Homo sapiens: one gene and its partners. The protein of the gene in region 3 purifies or fractionates together with the protein of the main gene of each other region. This does not show direct contact. Each region holds a gene or a part of one and is shown on either strand. Other genes may lie near its edges.

Region 1 (3,599 bases), on a different chromosome or scaffold from region 3:
GTGGCATCATCTCATTGACATTTTTGAAAGATCACAGTACTGCTTTGTAAAAAATCGATAGTAGAAAAGGAAGACAAACAGAAAGAATGACTGGGAGGCTGTGGAAGTCATTCAGACATGTACAAAGAGTAGCTTGTGTACATCAAAGGACACTATCAAGAAAGTGAAAGACAACCTATAGAATGCCAGAAAATATTTGCAAATAACTGATAAGGAATTAATATCCTGAATATATAAAGAACTCCTACAGGTCAACAACAACAACAACACAAATCCCACTTCAAAAATGGCTGAAGGACTTAAATAGACATTTATCTGAAGAAGATACACAAATGACCAAAAAGTACATGAAAAGATCCTCAACATTACTAGTCATTAAGAAAATGCAAATCACAACCACTATGAAATATCACTTATGCTCATTAGGATGGTTATTATTAAAAAAAAAAACAAAACAGAAAATAACAAGTGTTGATGAGAATGTGAAGAAATTGAAACCCCTGTACATTGCTGATGAGCCTGTAAAATGGTGCAGTTGCTATGGAGAACAGTAATGTGGTTCCTCAAAAAATTAAAAATAGAATTACCATTTCTATTAATTATTTTGCATATCCAGCTAGAAGCGGAATCGCTTCTAGCTGGATATGCAAAATAATTAAAAGCAGAGATTTGAACAGTGATATTTGTATAACAATTGTTCATAGCAACATTAGTCACAATAGCCAAAAGGTGGAAATGACCCAAATGTTTATCAACAGATGAATGAATAAACAAAATATGGTATATACATACAATGAAGCATTATTCAGCCTTAAAGAGGAATGAAATTCTGATGCATGCTACAACATGAACAAATCTTAAAACATTATGCTAAGTGATATAAAAGACACAAAAGAACCAATATTGTATGATTCCACTTGTATGAGTTGCCTAGAATAGGAAAACTCATAGAGACAGAAAGTAGAATCGAGCTTATCAGGGGGTGGAGAAAGAGTGGAAGAAGGTTGTTATTGTTTAAAGGGTTCAGAGTTTTCATTTGGGATGATAAAAAAAAAGTTCTGGAAATGGATAGTGGTGACGGCTATGCAATAGTGTAACTGTACTTAATGCTGCTGAATCGTACAGTGCCACGTTTTCTGAAATGGGAAGCAAATTAATTGATTTATCTAATAGTATTCAGTGTTTTCTTAGGACTTTGTCAAGCATTTGATAACTTTTGAACCCATCTTTTTTCATGGACTCAAAACTCATAGTTCTCAAGCTCAGACTCTTACATCAAATACCTTAATAAATATTTAGCAGTCTAGTTACTCAATTTCAGATACCAATTAAAATTTTAATTGCTGAATTAGCCTTTTGTAGTTCCTTTGTGCGGGGGAGAGCATATTTTGAAATAGTACTCTTTTTTTGTAAATTACCTTCCAGGTGCTGTTAAGTTTTCTTTAGTGAAGATGTCTATACCAGAGGGAGCATAGTTCCAGATGATTTCCTCAGCGGCAATGTAGTAGTGTCTAACATGCTTCCCACGGATATTATCCTTTGATGAAGACTTGTTACACTCCTGGACCTGGAAAAAGGCTTGCAAACCGGCTGAAATGAAACAGAAAGAGGCATTGATTAATGAAGACAATGTTTCTCTCTCCTATTGCCCTGTAAACACTGCTCGGGTGATGACAAGTAGAAATTGAAGGAATAGACAGATAGCAACAGTACTATAAACTAGGGCAGACAGCTGTAAATAAATTAATGATGGAAAACTCAAGTTTAAAACAGATATACTTTGTTTTTTATGTACATACAGCATAGAGATATTAAGCATATATGTTTTCAAAATATGGTACCAGTTTCTGTGGGGTTTCACTTGGTAGTTCTTTCAATGAGAGAAAAAGAACAAATCTGTAGATAAGCAGAGAAGAGAGGCTTTGACATATTTTAAGGGGTTGCATTGGGTGGAGGAGGAGGTACAAGGAGGAGGTACCAAATGAGCTTATATTATTGCTGTCTTGTACAAGATGGTTGTGCATCTGCTGTGCTGGGCCTTCTGTGGCCCAGAGCATATTTGATAAAAGCAATTATATTTGCACGTCAAAGTAAAATATCTGAACTCCTATGTTAAACTTAATTTATTCAGTAGACCAATATTAAAAACTAATATTTTTCAAGAACAAGGAATGTTTTTATTGCCTAAGTTAAAGAGATAAAGGAAGGATTTATCGAGTTAAACTAAGGGATGGCCAGGCTCAAATAAAGAACAAAGTTAATTATACTTGACAGAAATAAGTCGAAAAACAGGGTGCTTTCCAGTGCAACATACAATTTTTCTGGATGTTACAACACTGGTATATTTTACAAAGCTGAGTAAGTATATATAGTACTATACTTTCAGGGCCAGTTGTTCTTTCCAAAAACTAATATATTTTCAAATTTCATTACTTTATAATATTCCTGTCTTACAGTCTTTTTTTATTACATTATTATATATACCATCATAGGGATAAAACTAAGATGCCAGTTCAAAGCTCAGATTATTTCAAAGATATTTAGCTTTTAGATTCTGATTCCCAGTAACCACCTTTTTCAGCTGACTGCTAATTTCAGGTAAAGATGTCCTACCTTTCAGATGGTTTAGATTCTGACAGCTGAGCATCCATTCTCCAGGGTTCTGGGCCACCATATAAGCATCAAACAGGGTAGCAGGAAAGAGGTTGATTGTGTCAATACGGTAGTTCTTGTTAGTCAGTGCTTGCCCGTGAAAGAAAGCTGCGTGCACATCAACTTCATTACCCATACCAAAAAGGTACCATTTTACTCTGTCTTCAGCACACATGGAGAGTCCTGGGAGACTTCCAAAAGTGTATCCATTCACAGCTGTAAGTCAAGAGCAGAGTTTGTGACTAAGAGTCATTAATGCTTGAGATAGTGAGAGTTACCTCTATATAAATAGAATCAATTTGGAATGGCAAATATCTGGCACACATGCTGGTATTCTTGCCCCCTATACTCATGTCAGACATTGCTAATCAATCACAGCACTCTTTCATTTTGGAACTGAATTCAGCCTGAGGATTCTTATCAATACCATATTAACAGATGAACACAATACTGAAGATAAAACCTATTTGCTGTCTTTGTTATAAACTGTACACATTGTGTGTGTGTGTAAATACAGAGGTGTGCATATATACATACATATAAACAAAACACACATAGAATTAATAGAAAAAAGATTGAATATTAGTATTCAATCAGTTATTCATCATGTTGGTAGTATGGATGTTTTTGCTTGTCAGAAAATTTCCAATTTTCTACCATAAATTTATTTTGTAAAAAGTACATAAGAATAGCTTTTTTTTAAAGATTGCAAGACAAAATTTTTAAGATTGGAAGAGATATGAAGGAGGGAAAAAATGTAGAAGGGCAGCAGGGACAGAGCCACAAAGACCTAAAAGTTCATAGGCAAGGTGGCCTGAAACCCTCAGAAGAAACTTATGGTCACTGTTCAAACTGGGTGGCCCTAAAAATTTCCCAAGTGGAAATTAGTTCTGGGAAGAATCCTGAGTGCACCACATGTAACACTGGTACCAAATCAAACCTGCTCA
Region 2 (3,004 bases), on a different chromosome or scaffold from region 3:
AGACCAGCCTGGACAGCATGGTGAAACCCCATCTCTACTAAAAATACAAAAAACTAGCCGGGCATGCTGGTGGGTGCCTGTAGTACCAGCTACTCCGGAGGCTGAGGCAGGAGAATTGCTTGAACCTGGCAGGCGGAGGTTGCAGTGAGCCGAGATCACACCACTGCACTCCAGCCTGGGCAACAGAGTGAGATTCGGGAAAAAAAAAAAAAAAGCAAAAGCAAACAAACAAAACTCAATAGTAAGAAAACAAACAGGCCAGGCACGGTGGCTCATGCCTGTAGTCCCAACACTTTGGAAGGCTGAGGCAGGTGGATCACTTGAGGTCAGGAGTTGAAGACCAGTGTGGCCAACATGGTGAAACCCCCTCTCCACTAAATATACAAAAATCAGCCAGTGTGGTGGCACATGCCTGTAATCCCAGCTACACAGGAGGCTGAGGGAGTTGAATCGCTTGAACCTGGGCGGCGGAAGTTGCAGTGAGCTGAAATCATGCCACTGCACCCCAGCCTGGGCAACAGAGCATGACTCTCTCAAAAAGAAAGAAAAGAGAAGAAAAAAGAAAAGAGAAGAAAAAAGAAAACAACCCAATATTTTAAAGTGTGCAAAATATATAAACAGACATTTCATCAAAGATGCTATATAGATGGCAACTAAGCACTTGGGGAAAAAATGCTTAACATCATCAGACATTAAGGAAACGCAAGGAAAACCACTATTAGATATGTCTACATACCTATTAGAATGGCTAAAATAAACTTTTTAAAAAACTAAGCTGGGGCTGGGCGTGGTGGCTCACCCCTGTAATCCCAGCACTTTGGGAGGCTGAGGCGGGTGGATCACTTGAGCTCAGGAGTTGGAGACCAGCCTGGCCACCCAACAAGGTGAAACCCCATCTCTACTAAAAACATAAAAATTAGCTGGGTGTGGTGGTGGGTGCCTGTCAGCCCAGCTACTCAGGAGGCTGAGGCACGAGAATCACTTGAACCCAGGAGGTAGAGGTTGCTGTGAGCCAAGATCACGCCATTGCACTCCAGCCTGGGCAACAAGAGCAAAATTCTGTCTCAAAAACAAATAAACAAGAAAAGGTTTTAAAAATTGATAAACCACTAGCAAGAAAGAGAGAGAGGACACATCAGGCTTGAGAGAAGTGACATCATCATAGACTGTGCAGACATTAAAAGGCATAGGCATATTAGGAACTAGATATTACTAAGGCAGTAAACCAGATCACTAGCAAATTCGTTGAAAAACACAATTCATCAACTATTGGTTGATAATACTGATACGCATCTTCTGTGTGCCAGGGCCTTGAGGCCCTGCTCCAGGCAGAAACTCGGCAGTGGTTGGGAAGGCATCAGATGTCAGATGGCACAAGAGGACTCAGAGCTGAGGGATAATGGGAAAGAACACAGAGGAATCCAGCCATTTCCACAGCGTCCAGCTCTGCTGTGGGAGGCTGGGAACAGCCCAGCACTACCACCCTGGACTGGGAGGACAAGACCACAAAATGCAGCTTCCCTGAACCTCCTCTTGGTGATGGGGTTGATGTGGTCGAGGTAGAGGTGAGTATGTCTGGAGCCTCAAGCAACTGCCCATACCTGCTGGGACCAGGCCGAGGTGCCCAGGGAGTAAGAGGCAGCATCCTGGAAGAGCACAGATGAAAGAGGCCCTGAGAAGTGTTGGTTGGCCAGGTGCTGTGGCTCACACCTGTAATCCCAACACTTTGGGAGGCTGAGGCGGGAGGATCACTTGAGCCCAAGAGTTCAAGACCAGCCTGGGCAACATAGTGAGACTCATCTCTACAAAAAATAAATAATAGAAAGAAAAATGTGAGTTGGCCAGGCATGGTGGCTCATGCCTGTAGTCCCAGCTACTCAGGAGGCTGAGGTGGGAGGATCACTTAAGGCCAGGAGTTCAAGACAAGCTTGGGCAACACAGTGAGACCCTGTCTACAAAAAATAATAATTAGCCAGACGTGGCGATGCATGCCCAGGCTCCCAGCTACTTGGGAGGCTGAGGCAGGAGGATCGCTTGAGCCTGGGAGGTCAAAACTGCAGTGAGCCGGACTGCAACACTGCACTCCAGCCTGGGTGACAGTGTGAGACCCTGTCTCAAAAAAGAAAAAAGAAAAGAAAACTGTGCTCTTAAGAGCCAGTTCTCCACTCCTCTACCTCAGGAGCCACCCCAGAACCCATCCACTTTGAGGACACGAGATCCCAGCCCACTCAGCCCTGGGAGTCCAAAGACATTTTAAACAGAGCCTCTCTTCACATTTATTAATTCCTGGGAGGAATGAGGGAGGCTTCTCCAGCCCCCCAGAGACCCCGGCCTTGTGCTGCAACAGGAGGGGAGGGAGCCAGTCCAGAATCCCCGGCACTTCTGAGGACACCAACAGCACCCTGGGCCCGCGGCTGCATCAGCTTTCTAGACAACGGGAGAAAAGAGAAATGGTGGAGGAGGGGAAATCCTATGCCCTCCTCCTCGCGGAAATCAAGGCCGACCTCCCTGACGCCCCCCCGGAAGGAAGCGCGTGGTCGGCTGCCAGCCGAGACCCCCATCTGCGCCTCCAGCTGCAGGGCCTTTGCTGGGCGGTTCCTCGCCCGCAATTCCCCCACGAGCCCTGGGGAGACCCAGCGCTAACCAGGGGTGCCCAAGGGAGGAGCCGGGAGAGGCCCTCCTGGAGGTGGGCACAGCCCAGGCAAACATCAGCAGACGGAACCAGCACCCGGGACCCAGGGAAACGTCACCTGCCACCAGGAGCTCCACAGGGTCGCTGAGCTCCGATTCGAAGGTGTGGGGCACCCAGGAGCGGTAGCGGCACCTGTAGTTGCCGGCGTGCTGGGGCCCCACGAAGATCAGCTCGAGGTTCGCCGCGGCCCCGGGGGTGCGGACCGTCTTCACGGCCTTCGTCTCGCCCTCGCGCAGCAGCTCGAAGGTGACGTCGGGGATGGGTCCCTCGCAGCGCAGGACGGCATCTCGGCCCGCCAGGACCGCCCCACTC
Region 3 (4,208 bases):
TTCAACAAAAGCATATGAAGCACTGACATGGGAACTTACCACAGTGTTTATAGGACCATTATATAGGTAAAACAGATTTTGAGTCTGCAGATATTTAATAAGATTATCACAAAAAGTTCCATTACATCTTTAAATATATAAATACTGATGCCGCATTTACAAATAATGAATGGAAATTTTTATATAAGAGGTAATATTGAAATGACCTAATATCTAGGAAGAAAATAGTTTTAAAGTATTTTCAACAGTAAACGAAAATTTGAGGTCTAGCTTATCCTGGCTTTGATACTTGTTGTGATAATCTAGCACACAGTCTTTAACGCCTATGGAGTGCTGGGTTTTTTCACCTGCAGAGTGTTGCAAAATTTCAAAGATCGACAAGTATTTCTTCTAAAATAAAATTTTGATCATTCACAATGACAGTTTAGATAGCTTTTTAGAGGATCTGGTTTTGTTTTGTTTTGGAGTTTTTAGTAAGCATACTTTTTGTAAATCGGTAAACAACAAACAAAAAAGTAATGTGTACTGCCTATCCCCAGAATAGGACTACTATCATTGAAAATTGCCTCTGGCAGGGTGCAGTGTCTCACGCCTGTAATCCCAACACTTTGGGAGGCTAAGGCGGGTGGATCACCTGAGGTCAGGAGTTTGAGATCAGCCTGGCCAACATGGTGAAACCTCGTCTCCACTAAAAATACAAAAATTAGCTGTGCGTGGTGGCGGGAGCCTGTAATCCCAGCTACTCGGGAGGCTGAGGCAGGAGAATCGCTTGAACACAGGAGGCAGAGGCTGCAGTGAGCCAAGATGGCACCACTACACTGTAGCCCGGGCGACAAGAGGGAAACTCTGTCTCAAAAAAAAAAAAAAAAAAAAAAAAAAGGCTGGGCACTGTGGCTCACGCCTGTAATTCCAGCACTTTGGGAGGCCGAGATGGGCGGATCACGAGGTCAGGAAATCGAGACCATCCTGGCTCAGACAGTGAAACCCCGTCTCTACTAAAAATAAAAAAAATTAACTGGGTGTGGTGGCGGGCGCCTGTAGTCCCAGCTACTCGGGAGGCTGAGGCAGGAGAATGGCGTGAACCCGGGAGGAGGAGCTTGCAGTGAGCCGAGATCGCGCCACTGCACTTCAGCCTGGGTGACAGACCGAGACTCCATCTCAAAACAAACAAACAAAAAAACAAACAAACAAAAACACAAAAAGAAAAAAGAAAATTGCTTCTGTGACAGCAACTTGAATACTAAAAGTCGGTCCCTGGTTCCAATGGTTGAAGGCACCTTAGTAGTTAAATGTCATCCTACAGTTTAACCAGGTAGCTATTAAAACAGATAACCCAAATAAACAATAACAAGGCATTTGGCTGACCACCCTTTAAAACCTCTGAGGCTTTTCATGAGTGGGAAGGCTAGAATACTATTGAAGTCACTCATTAGAACTATGCTTAACTAATAAAATTATATAGAAGAATGATAATGTACTTCCGTATTTATATTTCAAAACCTTTTTCCTTGGCCAATACTTGTTAGTAAAGTGATTATGGTACTACACCAAGTTTTAGACTGTAAACTCCTAGAAATTATCATTTCAAGTGTGTATTAAATTTCAAGCAAATTTTAAACCGGTTTAAGATTCAGCCTTAAAGAACAGTTAAAATTGATTGAAAATAATCCAATTTCACCGCACTTTATACATCATAGTTGAAATGCAATGAAGACACATTATTACACAATAATGAAGAAGCAAAGATTTGGCCTGTTATCTGGGAAATTAGAGGGTGGACTACCTGGGCTCCTTTTAGCAAAACACTTTTCCAAAAGAAACTTATTTTTGTTTTCTTTAAACAATACTGTCCTGTCCTAAACGAAATCATTTTTAGTCTGTTGAAAATCCACGTGTCTTTGCGTGTTTATTTATTTATTTATTTATTTATTTATTTATTGCAGTGTTCAAAAAAAAAAAAAAAAAGATGCAAGGTTTCCAGCCCTGAGGACCAGGACGCTGTAGCTCCTGTCTCAGTTCAGCCCTAGCTCTAATTGTGACCTTGGGAAATGTCCCTGGCTCGGGGGACTCGGTTTCCCTCTCTTCTCAATTATGAGTGCTCGGAACGTGGGGGTGGGACGGGCCCCCAGCACCGCAGACAAGGGGTTACAGCTCGTCCAGCTTCATGCAAATCCCCAGCCCTCCTCGTCGCCTCGGCTCTTCCCATCCACTCAGCCACTAGCTCGCTCGGAGCAGTGTGCTCCCGGTGCCCCCCGCGGGGTACCCTCGGTTCTGCACGGCGCTCCCCCTTTGTGTCTTGCTGCTAGGAAGGGACCTTGCGATCATCCTTCCATCCGCCGAGAAACGCTCCACCTACCCTTCATTCTCGACCGTGTCTTTCCCGTTTCAGAGAACCCCTCACACTGCTGCCCTCGAGAGACCCCCGCCGTGGCTCTGACCGGGAATCCCTCTCCTTCCCTCCCCTCAGGAGACCTTCCCTTCACACAGCCTTCACCTCCGGAAGAGCCCTCAATTCACACAACCCCATTCTTCCTCAAACTCTCAGGGATTGGCACCCGGCTGCCTTTTGCGGAGCCGCAAAGGACCCTCAGCCTCCCCCACCTCCGTCATCGGGTTCTGGGGACCCCTCTCACCTCCGCGGTGAGAGATGTGTTTACTGAGGAATCGCTGCTTCTTTCTCTGGTGCAGCAAGGTCGGGTATTTAAGCAACAAGAATGAGGTCACCAAGTATCCTCCTAGCGTAGAGAGAAGGTAAAAAGCCGCAGTGGACGACATCTCAGTCACCGTGTGGGAAGTCTCCCACCTCCGGGCCCTCTGAACTCCGCTGCGGCAGTAGCAACGACGGCGGCGGCGGCGGCTGCTCGAGGTCGGCTCGCCCCCAGCCGGTGCCACTGGTGCAGCGCACTTGTCGGTGCCGGCCTACTGCGCACGCGCAGCTGGACCCCAGCGCCCCAGCAACAAAGAGGCTCCGACGCGCAGGCGCTCTCCGGCTCCCGTGTAGGAACCTGCAGAGATCCTGGACTGAGCGTTTGTCACCTAGCTCTGTGGACGGACCCTCATGAAGAGAAAGCTTGCAAACCTGCCAGTGTGTTGGCCATCACTCAAGCAGAAAAGACTATTCACGGGCAGCCTTTCCTAATTGGAAAATCCACATCAAAAAGGAAAGATTCCAGGGCGCGTCTTATCCCTTGCTCTAGAAAATGCAAATAATTTGTACCTATGGAGGCGATAAAGCTTGCTAAAACACTAAATAAACTCCTCCGTTTATCTAGCCTAGAGAGAATTTCCCCTATGGTCGCATATACTAGAAAAGGTACTGGTTTATCAGTCAAATATCTGAGAGATCGGCCCCTGTCCTCCCTCATTTCATTGTGAAAGTGCAATCCTCATTCTTTGTACACAATAGGCACTGTAGAAGTATTTGTTGACTTACAAGTCCGTATAAAATAAGGAAACTTTGTTAAGGTTATAAGGTATTACCTAAAAGTCCTAGAAAGACAGATAACTAAGTTCCAGAAGGCCCTACTAGTTTTCCTTTTACCCGACAAATTACAAACTGCTAACACACGAAAAGCCACACACTTCAATGCAAAAGAAATAAATCACCCAGGACTGAGGGAGAAATTTTACGGAGAAGACCATATCTCCCACAGGACTAGAAAAGCAGAGTGAATATTTAAAATCCTGATTCAGCCGGGCGCGGTGGCCCACGCCTGTAATCCCAGCACTTAGGGAGGCCGGGAAGGAAGGGTGGATCGCTTGAGCCCGGGAGTTCGAGACCAGCCTGGGCAACATGGCGAAACCCCATCTCTACAAAAAATAAAACAAAATAAGCCCGGCGTGGTGGCGTGCACCTGTAGTCACGCTACTTGGGAGGCTGAAGTGGGAGTATTGCTTGAGCCTGGAAAATCGAGGCTGCAGTGAGCTATGACTGCACCACTGCACCCCAGCCTGGGCGACAGAGCAAGACCCTATCTCAACTATAAAAAGAAAATTAGAAGAAAATAGGGGGTGGCTGGGCACGGTGGCTCAAGCCTGTAATCCCAGCACTTTGGGAGGCTGAGGCGGGCAGATCATTTGAAGTCAGGAGCCTGGCCAACATGGCGAAATTCCATCTCTACTAAAAATACAAAAATTTGCCAGGGGTGGTGGCGTGTGCCTGTGATCCCAGCTACTCAGGAGGCCGAGGCAGGAGAATCTCTTGGACC
Region 4 (4,189 bases), on a different chromosome or scaffold from region 3:
ATGTAACTGAGGAGCAGGGTGGCCTTGGGACCCATTCGAGGCTCCCTAGCCAGACAGTGGGGGTGCCAGGCTGTGGATCAGGTGAGCTGACTACAGTGGTTGTGTTCATAAGCCCTGTCCCAGGATCCTGGGACTGCAGATGGGGGCAGGAGGTAGTTCACACCACTGGTGGTCATCTCAGATGGCAAATGGAAGGAATTGTTTTTCTTTGAATAGTCATGGAAGTACTGCATGTATATATTTTAAAAATTGGAACCAGCTCATCGGTGCTGTGATTTCACAGGTATTGGGCACAGGGCCACACCAACGCAAGTCTTCCAAACACAGGTTTAAAGAAAAGTGTTAAGGAGCTCATTATAAAGTAATTTTCATTTGTAGCAAAAATCGGGATGGTGACTGTGGCCGTGCTGCAGTGTGGGTGACATTGAAAACCACAGTATCAATTCCCCACTGCACGGGTATTAAAAATGAGTGGGGAGTGGAGGTGGGGTGAAAGCCTGGGGTTTGGGACGCGTCTGTAGGTGGTAACTCCCCGCATTACGTCCCCTCCAATTGCCAATCCCCCAACCCCGTGGCTCACGCTGTTCCCTCCTGTTAGCTTTCAGGTCCTCCCTGGTTTCACAGGGACTTCTCCCTCCTGGGCTCTCATCCACCACCCCTGGGCCTCTGTAGAGCTCAGCTGTCCCTACAGTGAGGCAGGTGCCTAAAAGCAGAAGATCTGCCTAGCTGTGCAGCCTTGCCTGGCAGCTCTCCTGCTCTGGGCCTCTGGGGCTGCCCAAGTTGGGCCATGGACAAGGTGGGCACTGTCCAATCCCTTGCGTTTACCTTTTTCCAATCGGTGTACACGACATCTGACTTGGGAATGCGCAAGCAGTCGAGAGCTTCGTAGAACTCTCCCAGTTGCTCCTTGGTCGTCTCTGGCTTGTCAGCTGCAGGGGGAGCAAGGAGACTGACTGGGGACATGGTGGGGCCCGGCGGGAGGCCAGGGAGGGCTGGGGTTCTAGGGGCCAGCCCAGGGGTGGGTGAATGGGGGGTGAGGCCTGAGAGGGGCATGAGTTTGGGGCTGCTAAGCATGCCTACCATAGACAGACAGCCCCCAGTTCTTCTCATCGTTCACGTCAAAAGCAAGCATGTAGGTCTTGGTGTCCCTGAGGATCAGCAAGTGAGCGAAATGCTCTTGGCCTCCCACTGGAAGAGAAAAGGAGCCTCTGGGTGAGAACATGGGATGGCACAATGGTGTCTGTCTTACAGGTGAGGAGGCCTAGGTGTGTCAGTGGCCACACAGCCCATCAGTGAAGGCCCAGGGCTCCTTTGGGCCACCGTGTGCCCAGCCCCTGCTGCATGCCCAGCTCCACGCCAAGCACTTTCTGTACATGAGATCTCAGGAGCCTCACACAGACCGTGGCTGTCAGGGCCTTTCTCCGTTTTACAGATGAGGAAAATGAGGCCCAGAGAGGAGGCTCGGGATGCTAAATGGTGTCAGTTCAGCTCCATCAGCTCCCTGCCATGTGCCACCTCTGCGGTGATGGGGGACATAGTTGAAGGTACCACCTCTCCAACATACAGGCTTCTACCATTGGTTTGCAAAGGATCTTAAAGAGGGCATGAGAGAGAGGCAGATCTGAAGCCAGCCTGGAGTTCCAATTCTAGTTCTAATTATAAGCTGTGTGACCTTGGGGAAACTATTTGAGGTCTCTGTTCTTCTTTTTCCTCCTCTAATTCTCTCAGTGTCCTCTTAGAGTTGTTTCTGAGCACATCGTTAGAGCTCAAAAATGTTAGTGGTTATTTCTCTGTGCCCAAAGCCTCCAGGGCTCTACATCCAGCCCCCACCTTATGCTGGCCTGCCCTGTTCCCACAGTGAACCCTCCTGCCTGAGGGCTGGCCCTCACCGTATCTGGAGATGGTCCCATTTTCCCGCTGGACATTCAGGTAGGTGGTGTTATAGATGCACTGGTCCTGTCTAAAGCCAAACAGAAGGCGGAAGGAAAACAGGAAGATTATTGAGAAGTGGCCAATCGCCCATCACAGTCCTGGGGCAAGAGTCTGGTGGAGATTAAAGCCAGCCCTCCCGGTTCCACCCATGGGAAGGCCAAGGCCAGGAAGAAGGAGGGACTTGCTCAGGTCTTCTGGCCAGAAGCTGAGATGGGGGTGCATTGGAATGGGGGCTCTCACCGGGTCTGGTACTCTCTGAGAAAGATCGTGTCCTCTGTCTTGTTGGGGGTGAAGTAAAAGAAGGTTGCTTGGATCTCCTGAACCGACTTATTGTACTCCTCGTTTCGAAAGGCCGATGCGATATAAAACCACTTGCCAGTGATCTGGGGAGAAGGTGGGAGCTGGTGATGGGGGCTTGATGCTGAATCTTTGACTGTCAGCTGGGAGGAGACTCAGGCAGATCTCTCCCTGATTTTGCAGATGGGGAGATGAGGCCCCTGGTGGGCAGTGCGCATGCAGGAGCTCACCCTGAGGATCAGTCATTGCCCCCCAGGCAGCCCCTCCAGGCCCAGCACAGAACCGTCCTCCGTGAAGGACTCTGCAGTGAGGCTTCTGTGTTTGGAGGCAGGGGGTGCCTCCAGAGTCCCCTGGGCTGGTGAGAATTTCACCCTGGGGACCCAGAAGAGAAAAAGGCAGAGCCGGGAGTGGGGGTCCGACCACAGCCAGCAGGGAAAGGGAAGCCCAGAGAAGGGAGGCAGCTGCCCATGTGCTCAGGACAGGGCTAGCCCAGGCACTCACCCGGTCCAGGGTGGCGTTGGTGATGGGCACCGGTACTAGGTTGGCACACAATGGGATCTGGGCTTCCAGCAGAGGTAGGAGGCTCAGGACTGTAAGAACCCAGGACAGCGCCATACTGAGACCAGGAGGCACGTGGAGCCAGGCAGTGCTGGTGGCTGCAGGGTGCAGTCACCTTTATAATAAACTATGGGCGGTCACTTGGAGCCCAGCAAAAGTTTACTCTGTGTCTGTGACACAATCCTGCCAGCACTTGGGAAATGCCTCGCACAAAACCTCCCCCAAAGGCCAGCTCGGAGCACCGCCTCCAAACCCAGGTCTAATTTGAGTTCCTCACATGGAGAGGTTACAAAAGCCCTAGAGTATGGCTGCCCAAGGCCAAGGTGGGTGCGGGGCTGCAGCAACATTAGTAAACGTGTGAGTCCACAGATTTCCTAGAGAGGCCTCCCGCAGAGGAATCTCATGTCTTCATTCAATTCCTATCCCTCTGAGTGCCAAGACTTACTTCAGTGGGACCCAGCCACAAACCTAATGATGAAGCCACCTTTGAGGGTCCCCAGGCTGGCATGGGATGTATGTTGTGGCGGGGAGAGTTGGGGTGAAGGATGCCGGGGAAGACAAACATAGATTCAGTTCCACTGAGTGTGGCAACAGCTGTGTCAGAGCCAAAGTTCATTGGGGCCCCAACCCAGCCCTGGACGCAGGCACATTTCCAAAAAGGGACATCCAAGTTGAATGTCTATTTCCAGTAAATATACTACTCGAAGCATCTCCCAACATCTCAAACAGGAAACTGTCTCCCTGTTTTCCCCCATTCCCTGCCATCTGAGCAGGCAGCTTGCTTCTCTTTCACCAATACGCCCCCAATCCTGGAGCAGTGCCCAGCACTTCAAGGGCACTCGGTATATTCTGTGGAATGAGTGATTCCGTGGCCCATTTGTGTTCCTACCTCACGGGTCAAGTCTTTATTTGTATGAATAAATACTTTCAGAAAGTATTCATTTTTTTTTTTTTTTGATACGGAGTTTCACTCCCGTCCCCCAGGCTGGAGTGCAATGGCTCAATCTCGGCTCACTGCAACCTGTGCCTCCTGGGTTCAAGCGATTCTCCTGCCTCAGCCTCCTGAGTCGCTGGGATTACTGGTGCCCTCCACAACGCCCAGCTAATTTTTTTTGTTGTTGTTATTTTCAGTAGAGATGGGGTTTCTCCATGTTGGCCAGGCTGGTCTGGAACTCCCGACCTCAGGTGACTCACCCGTCTCGGCCTCCCAAAGTGCTGGGATTACTCAGAAAGTATTCTTACGGTATGATTATAATTTTGCATTCTTATTCATTTCATTCTGAATAACTTTCATATTTCAGTGTAGTTTGTAGTTAAAAGCTTAATGGACCCAAGATGGGAGAGTCACCTGAGTCCTGGAGTTCAAGACTAGCCTGGGCAACATAGTGAGACCCTATCTTTA

Evidence for each region.
Region 1: the proteins of GDPD1 (region 3) and CP purify together in Homo sapiens (affinity purification with mass spectrometry; 3 studies listed by BioGRID and IntAct, with this or other methods). This does not show direct contact.
Region 2: the proteins of GDPD1 (region 3) and A1BG purify together in Homo sapiens (affinity purification with mass spectrometry; 3 studies listed by BioGRID and IntAct, with this or other methods). This does not show direct contact.
Region 4: the proteins of GDPD1 (region 3) and ORM1 purify together in Homo sapiens (affinity purification with mass spectrometry; 3 studies listed by BioGRID and IntAct, with this or other methods). This does not show direct contact.

The regions. Positions count from the first base shown.
Region 1 is NC_000003.12:149,204,750-149,208,348, forward strand, and holds part of CP (ceruloplasmin precursor), read right to left. Parts: intron 2,869-3,599; coding exon 2,614-2,868; intron 1,591-2,613; coding exon 1,419-1,590; intron 1-1,418. UniProt on the Homo sapiens protein: Multifunctional blue, copper-binding (6-7 atoms per molecule) glycoprotein. It has ferroxidase activity oxidizing Fe(2+) to Fe(3+) without releasing radical oxygen species. It is involved in iron transport across the cell membrane.
Region 2 is NC_000019.10:58,344,603-58,347,606, forward strand, and holds the end of A1BG (alpha-1B-glycoprotein precursor), read right to left. Parts: coding exon 2,751-3,004; intron 2,428-2,750; coding exon 2,420-2,427; 3' UTR 581-2,419; downstream 1-580.
Region 3 is NC_000017.11:59,219,177-59,223,384, reverse strand, and holds the start of GDPD1 (lysophospholipase D GDPD1), read right to left. Parts: upstream 2,875-4,208; 5' UTR 2,776-2,874; coding exon 2,634-2,775; intron 1-2,633. UniProt on the Homo sapiens protein: Hydrolyzes lysoglycerophospholipids to produce lysophosphatidic acid (LPA) and the corresponding amines. Shows a preference for 1-O-alkyl-sn-glycero-3-phosphocholine (lyso-PAF), lysophosphatidylethanolamine (lyso-PE) and lysophosphatidylcholine (lyso-PC).
Region 4 is NC_000009.12:114,321,789-114,325,977, reverse strand, and holds the start of ORM1 (alpha-1-acid glycoprotein 1 precursor), read right to left. Parts: upstream 2,881-4,189; 5' UTR 2,845-2,880; coding exon 2,731-2,844; intron 2,316-2,730; coding exon 2,173-2,315; intron 1,961-2,172; coding exon 1,890-1,960; intron 1,189-1,889; coding exon 1,081-1,188; intron 930-1,080; coding exon 826-929; intron 1-825. UniProt on the Homo sapiens protein: Functions as a transport protein in the blood stream. Binds various ligands in the interior of its beta-barrel domain. Also binds synthetic drugs and influences their distribution and availability in the body.